Regions from separate parts of the Homo sapiens genome. Here region 1 is linked to region 2. The links come from fine-mapping of genetic effects on gene expression. A gene starts in region 2. The other region holds a variant in brackets. All regions are shown on one strand. Distances are from middle to middle. Region 1 overlaps HNRNPUL1 (heterogeneous nuclear ribonucleoprotein U like 1). Region 2 holds the start of HNRNPUL1 (heterogeneous nuclear ribonucleoprotein U like 1).

Evidence for each region. PIP is the estimated chance that this variant, and not a neighbour inherited with it, causes the effect.
Region 1: its variant is fine-mapped to the expression of HNRNPUL1 in whole blood (TOPMed, PIP 0.91).

What each region holds. Positions count from the first base shown.
Region 1 is chr19:41,305,157-41,309,536 of GRCh38, reverse strand. HNRNPUL1 (heterogeneous nuclear ribonucleoprotein U like 1) reads right to left here. Exons shown (of 15, transcript NM_007040.6): 14 at 3,670-3,861; 15 at 1,750-3,088. The coding sequence ends at 2,972. LOC105372401 (a long non-coding RNA gene) reads left to right here. Exons shown (of 2, transcript XR_935968.4): 2 at 1-1,998. Among named protein-coding and RNA genes, the nearest start is that of CCDC97, 2.8 kb to the left of the region's middle. RefSeq lists an enhancer at 593-772. The variant G/A (reference allele first, on the strand shown) is at 2,429.
Region 2 is chr19:41,262,020-41,266,399 of GRCh38, reverse strand. It overlaps HNRNPUL1 (heterogeneous nuclear ribonucleoprotein U like 1), which reads right to left and starts at 2,028. Exons shown (of 15, transcript NM_007040.6): 1 at 1,602-2,028. The coding sequence starts at 1,896. RefSeq lists silencers at 1,503-1,552, 1,573-1,642, 1,733-1,972 and enhancers at 1,978-2,516, 2,517-3,056, 3,057-3,596, 3,953-4,042, 4,073-4,122.

The DNA.
Region 1 (4,380 bases), 43 kb before region 2:
ACCCTGTCTCTGGCTGGCATGAGATGGATAGTGAGATAGAACTTCCCATTTTGTGTTCCCAGGACCTGGAGGAAATCTACAGGTGTGAAACAAGACAACTCTGGTCCTTATTTCCCTATGGGATGGGTGGGGCTCTATTTAGGTGTTACCAGCAGAGTAGACAGACATGTCACTCAGTGGCCAGGGCTTTGATGGATCCAGAGGGCTGAGGGAGCTGTCCACCCCAGGCTGGAGGGTCAAGGAAGCCTTCTTTCTGGGAGGGTACCCTCAAGCTAAGACCTGAAGAACGAGTAGGAGCTGGGTTAAGAGGAAGGTAGGGAAGAGTCTTGAGGAGGATGGCACGTACGGACGGTTCTGGTTGCTGCAAGCACTTCACTACGGTCAGGGCATAGGAAAGGAGCTCTAACTTGAAAGCCATGATTGGGCTGTGGAGGTTTTGAGAACCTCATGAATTTTTATGCAAAATTCCATGTACCTCTGTATTCTCCAATGCAGTGGTTCATGGCATCATTTGTGGGTTCCAAAAAGGACTTATGGCTCCTCAGAACAAAATAAACACTGATTTGATATTCAAAGGGGGAGCAGAAAGAGAGGGCGCCAGCGATGTTACCAGGTGCTAGGCCATGCAGGGCCTCATAAGCCATAGTAAGTGGCTTGACCTCCTTTATTCTGAAGGGAGTGGGCATCAAGGGACTGGAGATGAGACGTGTGAGAAAAACTGGCTGAGAACAGAGGAAGAGCTTCCCCATTTGCATTCCCTTGAGGTCTGGAGTTGTGGAAGAAAGCCAAGGAGGTCCCTATTTACCAACCCAGATTCCTAGGCATTACCAGGAGAGGCCAGCAGAGGGCGCTGTAGCCCAGCATATGGACATGAAGGGAAGGGGACTTTCCAGACTAAAGGCCCTGCCACCTCCTCTCTGGCGCATTCTAGGGTCCCTTTTAGCCACCAACCTTGGTTCCTTCTCACGTTCTGATGCCCTACCCGAGATTCTGAGACTAGTCAGTTTCCCTCCCTTGTTTTTGTTGCCCATCTCCCCTTCACAAGGCTCTGAGCTCCCACCAGGGAAGATTGGGGCTGAATTGGCTTCTCCTGTGGCCCAGCATTGTCTCTCACAAGGAGCCAGGAACACAGCATGTATGAGGGAACGAAGACATAAGGTTGCTAAGGAAGGGGAAGATGGGCCATGGGGATGCAATCTGGAGTCTTTTACCCTGGCTCACTCCTCCAGGAAGCCCTCCCTGCACACCACCCCAGGCTCTCACAGCTGACCACTTGGTGCTGGCAGGTCTTTGTTCTCTCTGGAGTGGGAGCTCTGTGAGAACGGGGTCCAGGACTGCCGTGGCCATACTATGTCCCCAGCACTGTCCAGGACAGCTGAAGAACACAGCAGGTGGCTCACACACACTGGCTGAAACATGAAGCTCCTGGAATCCCCATGAGCCCCAAACACAGAACAGGCAGGAACTGTCCTCCGTGCTGCACACAGGCCAGGCCTGAGGCAGGTGGTCTGTGGATGCCCAGTGATGATGCCAAACAAACCAGCCCTGGTCTCTGCCCCATCAGTCCCACCCATCCCTCCACCTAGAGGCCTGTTCCATGTCCTTTACTCAAAAACTCCTGGAGGGATTTTAGACTGTGAGAGGTAGAGAACAAGAGAAGCACTTTAAAAATGAACTAGTGGATTTTAAACCAGGGACCCTTGTTTAAGCGTGCATTTTTAGCACCAAAATCGGGGCCAGGCACATGAATCCCTCAGTTAAGTTGTTTAATGAATGAGTAAATAATTTCCCTTTAAAGAGGCCCCCACCCCAATTAACGGCCAACTGCAGTAACACTTCAGGGTTTCAACCCTGCTTCCTTCCTGCTAGGAGGTGCCATGTCATTTATTCAAAGAAAACAAAACGAAACCAAACAAAACAGGGCAAACACATTTCTTAATAAGTGCAGTTTGTTAAAATCATGTTAAAACATATGAGTCAAGGGGAAGTAAAAATAAAGGGTATCACTGTAGGAAAAGCTTTTGGGTCTGGCACCTGGGAGACCACTGGAGAGGAGGCAGTGGGAGAAACTTCAAGTTCTGAAGGGAAGGAGCCCCCCAACCTCCCCTTCTTCCCTCTCACCCACTGAATCCCACCAGAAACTACCAAGACGCCCGGAATAAAAGGTTTCAAGTTCAATAGTCACTCTCTCCAAATACAAAAAGCAGTTACAATTCAACTGAACACAGAAGCTTGTGTGCAAAGTTATGGGGAACTGGGGCATCGTATAAAAAGTTGGGTTAAAGATGATTCTGTGGTTTGGTTTTGTTGTGTTTTGTTTTGTGGCTCTTCCTCAGTCACCTGAACTCAGGAAAGAAATGCTTATCTTGATGAAATATCAACAGCCCACCCACAGTAAAAAGACAAATTCTAAAAATTAAAAAAAAGC[G/A]CATAATTACCAAAAAAAAGTCACTGCTTCCTCCCCCTCCCCATTTTGCTTTTTAAACTTTTTTTTTTTTAAGTTTTGATTTTTTTTTTAATCCTGAAAAGTAGACAGTAAAACAGCTCCTGGGAGAATTTACAACCAACTGCATGAGGGTCTGGGAAGCTGAGGGGCTGGAGCAGGGTTGGGAGAGTGAACAGGAGGGGATTCTCCCCTCAGTCACTGTAGCCTCACTGTATGATCAAGGGAGGTGGGGATTATTTAGTCAAAAAGGAAGAAGGTAGGAAGAACAGGAGGTGGAAGGCTGGGGAGGTGGGGACAAACAGAAAATAAAAGGTCATTGTTGCCTGTTTGAATCCAGAAAAAAATGCCTGGCCCTATGGAGGGGAAGGAAGCCCCTCAGAGGGGAGGCAGTGGGCTGGAGGGAGGCAGCCCTGGGATGACCCCATCCCCAGCACCACGGGATCTGGCGGGGGCAGAGGAGGGGCCGAGGCAGGCGCTGGTGGAGGAAGCCGGCAGGGGCCTCCGGGAGCCTCTGGGTCACACTGGCTACTGTGTACTTGTGCCACCCTGTGTGTTCCCGGAGTAGCTCCCGTAGTCGTAGTTCCCGTAGTATGGCGGCCACTGGCCCTGGTTCTGATAGTACTGGTTCCACTGCTGGGCATACTGGGGAAAGAAACCAAGAACACCAAGTTGTCCTGCATCCACCACACATTTAGCCTCCCCACCAGCCCCACCCTCACCTAGGGCAGAGACAGCTGCAGTGACAACAGTTGAACACAGGTCCCCTGACAGAGAAATCAAGGCACCTTGGAAAGACCTGACACCACACAGGTAGGCAGTTAGGGACTGAAGCCCAGGTCTCAGCTTGTCAACCCAGTGCCTTTTGGGTATAGCTAGATATCATAGTCAAAAGATTTAGTAACAGGTATGGGGGCCTGGGCACCAACCTGCAGCAGGATTTGGAGCCCCCTGTCTATGGTGCTGAAAGAGGACTCTGAGGCCCCTGGTACTTAGGCCAGCCCTTCCCCTTCACTTGCTAGACTGTGGAGGGGGCTAGGATACCAATTACCTAGCAACCAGTGCAGAAGTGTTGACCAAATGGAATGGCTGCACCAGATGAACGCCAGGCCGAGGCCAGCAGGCTGTCTTTTTAGGGATAAGCAGGGACTTAAGTCTGGGAATACACACCCAGGAGGGGCCCATGGAAGTCTCTCCATCCAGTTGGCCCCCAGTCTGGCACCTACCTGCTGATACTGGTTATAGCTGGGCTGAGGGTAGGTCTGTGCAGTGGGGGGTGGCGGTGGGGTATAGGGGGCCGGGTTGTAACCGCCGTAGCTCCCATAGTTGTAGGCAGGTGGTGGTGGAGGTGGAGGCGGTGGGGCTGTGTAGCCCTGGCTGTAACCTCCCTGGTTGTAGGGTGGCTGGCTGTAACTCGGCTGGAAAGTGGAGGGAAAAAAGCCAAAGCTCTGTGAAATAGAGGAAATCTGCAGATGTGAAATGCTGGGATGGAAAAAGGGCCTTTTTAAGTGGTTGGCCCACAGGGGCCCTTCCCTTGCCTAGTGGACATTGTTTGTGGGCTGAGAAGGAGGAGAGCCAGCTCCATGCCATGGTAGGGCAGGATGAAGGGCAAGCCCCAGGGCTGTGATGTGGACTCTAACCCCAGCTCTGAGACCCCCAGGGAGCAAGGTACACGGCACTTCTTGAAATCTCAGTTTTCTTTTTTATAAAATGAGAATCACAATAGAACAAGAACAACTCCTTTAGCTTGCCCTGGGTATCCAATAAGCTTGTGTGTATAAACCACTGGGTACTCAACAGGTGGTGGTAGTTGTTACTGGAAGATCTGCTGAGAAACAGTAGTGGCAATTGACTAAGTGCTTCCCAAGTACAGGTTGGATCATTACATCATATAATCTCCATATAGAACCTAGGGGTAGGTCCCACTAGCCCCATTT
Region 2 (4,380 bases):
GTGCAATGGCGTAATCTCGGCTGACTGCAACCTCCCCCTCCCAAGTTCAAGCGATTCTCCTGCCTCAGCCTCCCGAGTAGCTGGGACTACAGGCGCACACCACCAGATCCGGTTAATATTTGTATTTTTAGTAGAGACAGGGTTTCACTATGCTGGCCAGACTGGTCTTGAACTCCTGACCTCGTGATCCGCCCGCCTCGGCCTCCCAAAGTGCTGGAATAACAGGCGTGAGCCACTGCACTCGGCCCGAAAGCTGCTTTTTTTCTAACTGAAGATTCACGCCGTCCCATATCAGGTTTTCCTCTCCTCAGACAACCGCAGGTCTACCCGAACCCATTCCCAGAGTCACAGCTCCTGGCTGATGAAGAGTTCCGTGCTGCTCCCCGAGGGCCCCCACTCCCTGGGTACACAAATAACTGCTTCTGGGAACCGTCGAGATTTCTCCTGGAGACGCTCAGGTCCAGAAACATTCCCCACACTCCACTCTGAGGCCTCCAGTGAAGTCAACAGGTTTCTTTCTCTTTGCTCCCTACGGCCTCCCCCCTCCCCATATTCGCTAAGCCAGATACGTACTCCTGTGCTGGACACAGGATCCTCTGTCTCCCGCCACATATTTCATCCACTTGGAATGTTACCAACTCATCTGCCCCCATCCCACCCCCAGCTACCCTCTGTTCTCCAAAAACCCCACAGTTAGCTCCAGACCAGTCAGCAGCAGCCTCAAGAGTTATTTGCCCTCAGTTTTCTTAGCTCTAGACCCCCAGATCCTTTGTCCAGGAAAGCATCCTCTCCCCCGCCAGCCTCTGGACACCAGGGCTCCCTATACCTCTTCTAGAAGCCAACCAGAAAGTCCCCAGATCTCCCAGCACCTAATGTCCAGGCTGTGCCTGCTTCAAGGGTGGCCTTCCAGCCCCGGAAGAGAGATGGGGGTGCCCCCTAGTTCAATCTCCCGCAGCCCCTAAATGCTCACTAGCCAAACTCCAAAGCACTGAGTCCATTAGGACCCTCCCCAGCCACAGACACCAGCGCCTCCACCTCTCCCACCCACCCCCGTACCCAAATAGGAGAACGCCCAGGATCGCATCCAGCGGCATATTCCAGGATCCTCCTTCCTCAGAACTCTCGCAGCCCCGCACACCTGGACATTCCTTCCCCACCCTGGAAACACGGCTCCCCACCCCCCAGCCCACACGCTGGGCTAGCACGACCGCCAAGCCCACGGAGCTCCGTACCCTAGGATCCCCATTTTCGAGACCCTCCCCAACCCAAACGGAAAACCTCTTGTTCTTCCGACTCTCTTCGGCTCCAGAAAGCAGTTTCCGGTCTCCGATCCCTACGGTACGGAATCCTCCCCGCCACCCCCGTCCCTCACCTCCGAAACCCAGAGGCCCCTCCCCCAGTGTCCCCCCTGCACTGAGTGTCAGGATCCACCCTCCGGTCGTGCTGGGGCCCTGGTCCCCAGATCCTTTTCGGCGGCGGGTAGCGGGATCCCCCGATCCTCAGGTCGTCTCCCCGACCTCAGGCGCTGGACTCCCGCGTCCCACAGCCCTTTCCTCGGCCCAGGCTCCGGGCTCCCCGGCCCCCGCCCCGCGCACTCTCACAATGTCCGTCCGGCCCCGAGTAGCCGCCGGGCTCCGCGTGCGGCTGCAGCCCGGGCGGCGGTGGCTGCGCGGTCCCCTCCAGCTCGGAGCCCCCCTCGGTCTCGACCTCCTCGTTGATGTGCCCGGGTCGCCCCGGTTCGTCGTCGGCGTCGAGCTCCCGCTCGTCGTCAGGCTCCTCGGCCTCCAACGCCGCCTGCAGCCGCTCAGCAAGCTCGGCCTTGAGGCCTCGAGTGTCCAGGCCGCGGCGCTGCAGCTCCTCGCGAAGTTCGTTCACCTTCAGACGGCGCACATCCATGGCCCGGGCCCCCGGGGTGGCCCCCGAGCCCGGCCCGGCCTCCCAGGGCTCTGTCCCCCTTAAACCTTTCCTGTCAGGAGGCGAAGGGGGAAAGGGGGGGGGCCCACTCCAATGGCGGCAGCGGCTCAAAATGGCCGCCGCCACCGCCTCCCCCCTCACTCGTGCCTCGTCCGATGTTACATGAGTGCCAATTGGTCAGTGCGTGGGGCAACGGGCGCGGGCCCGGAAACCTAGCCAATCAGAGCGCCGTTTTCAAAACAACGGCCACGAGAAGGCCTAGGAGCTACTGGGGAGGAAGCGTTGGCCTACGTCGAAGCCGAGGCCGGAGCGGAGGGCGGGAAAAGGCAGGAGGCGGAGCGCTTGCTGATTGGGTAACTCTCGCGCGCCGGCTGCCGTAAGGTCCAATGAAAATAAGGGAGTAACAATTTGGTCCAATCAACGGTAAGATCTCAGAATGAGTGTCCCACGGCCTTTCCTGCGCAGTCCTTTCATCAAACTAAGTGTCTCTGTAACACACATTCCGATTGGTGTACATCTCCCGCCCCTTGAGGAGTCCGAGCGGGTAAAACCACTAGAACCAATCAAATGGAGGGTCGGCAGAAACCCCTCCTTCCTGTTGCCTTTAAGAAACCGGAAAGAGATGAATTCACCAGGAGCCCGCCCCTTGCCGTTAGGGCGGTTTCAAAACAATCTGCCCACCAATCGCAGTTATTGTCTTAGCTCACTAAAGCTGGTAGCGATGGCTCATTTTAGGAAAAGTTCACCAGATTGGCCGTGCTTCAGAGGACTGCCTCACAAATTTCGCTGTAGGAGGAGGTATACGAAATAGAGATTAAGTGGATACACAGTTCGTAATCTGGAAGGAACCCAGTTGCCTTTAGGAAAAGCAAAATTTTGAGTTGAGAGAGTCCCGAAGGTTTGGCTATAGAAACTAGACTAACAACGGGAGGCAAGTTGTAAAGGACACGGCCTCCCCTTCCCTTGGGTAGTCCGCGGCCGCCTTGCTCTATGGTCGGGTACCTGACGTGGAACGGGCGCTCTGCACGCGACCATAGAGCCTTCCCCTCCCGAAAGACATCCAGAAGTTCACCGACCGCTCTCCCGAATCCTCTAATCGGCTGTTCCCGTAAATCGGGCTGTCTGGCGTCTGTACCGACAAGCTCAACCCCACGGATCCGTCATTAACCTTCGCGCTCAGGAATACAAAAGCCACAGAGCTTCCCAGTGTCTAACGCTGCACCACCTGTCGCCTCTAACTCAAAACAAAACTCGAGTAAGACGCAATCGGGATACATGATGCAGACTCCCACTGCCTCCTGAGCCACACGTTAAGCCCGCAAAAGCCACACACTATCTCTACTCAGACAAAGGCACACCCCGCAGTCGTAAACAAACAGGCGTGCGTCAGATCAGACGCATCCAGTTCTTTTTTTTGTTGTTCTTTTTTTTTTTTTTTTTTTTTTGAGACGGAGTCTCGCTCTTGTTACCCTGGCTGGAGTGCAGGGCCTCTATCTCAGCTCACCGCAACCTCCGCCTCCCGTGTTCAAGCGATTCTCCTGCCTCAGCCTTCCGAGTAGCTGGGATTACAGGTCCCCGCCACCATGCCCGACTAATTTTTGTATTTTTAGTAGAGACGGGGTTTCACCATGTTGGCCAGGCTGGTCTCGAACTCCTGACCTCAAGTGATCCGCCCGCCTCGGCCTCCCAAAGTGCTGGGATTACAGGCGTGAGCCACCGCGCCCGGCCCCAATTCCGATCTGCTTTGGGTAAGGCACCCCGCTGCAGTGTAGATGTGCCCACTACGGTCCGCAGAGGCAGGCGGCATCGAATAATAAAGATAACACAGGATAGTTGCACTACAAGCGAACACTACAGCAACCCAAACACACAGCACCCACTCAGCAGCGGGACAGACACTCACGTGGGCCCAGAGGTTCCAGTCCAGACACCCCGCCCCTCGCCCACGTCCGACTTCCTCTCTCTCTCTCTCCTCCCAGCTTCCCACAATGATTTGTTCTAAAAAAGTTTGTGGCCCGGATTGAACTGTCCCCGGTTCTCAGGAGCCGCCACTGGAGGGCGTCCGGGCGCTGCCAAGGGTTTCTCCATTTGCTGCCGGCCACACCCGCGAACGCCCGCTCGCGAGTGCGTGCCAGACACGGTGGGCTGGTCTTCGCTGGAGGCCCTTTGTGGGTCCGTGATGATCGGAGGTGTTCTGTGCCTGTGTTTCTATGTCAGTCTGAACGTTCGGGGTTGTGAGTACCTGTTGTACTCTACATGTCTCTTGAGTATTTGTGTCACTTGACTCTAGGTCTGTGTCTCTTCCTATTCGTGGCGGGTATCTGCCTGAGCATGTTTGTAAATATGCTTGTGTCTGTGTAATTCTGTGTGTCTGTGTTACTCTATGCGTCTGAGTTTCAGTCTCTGTATTTGTGACCAGGTCCTCCTGGGTGTGTCCATTAATTCATGTGTCTGTTAGTTTGCGGC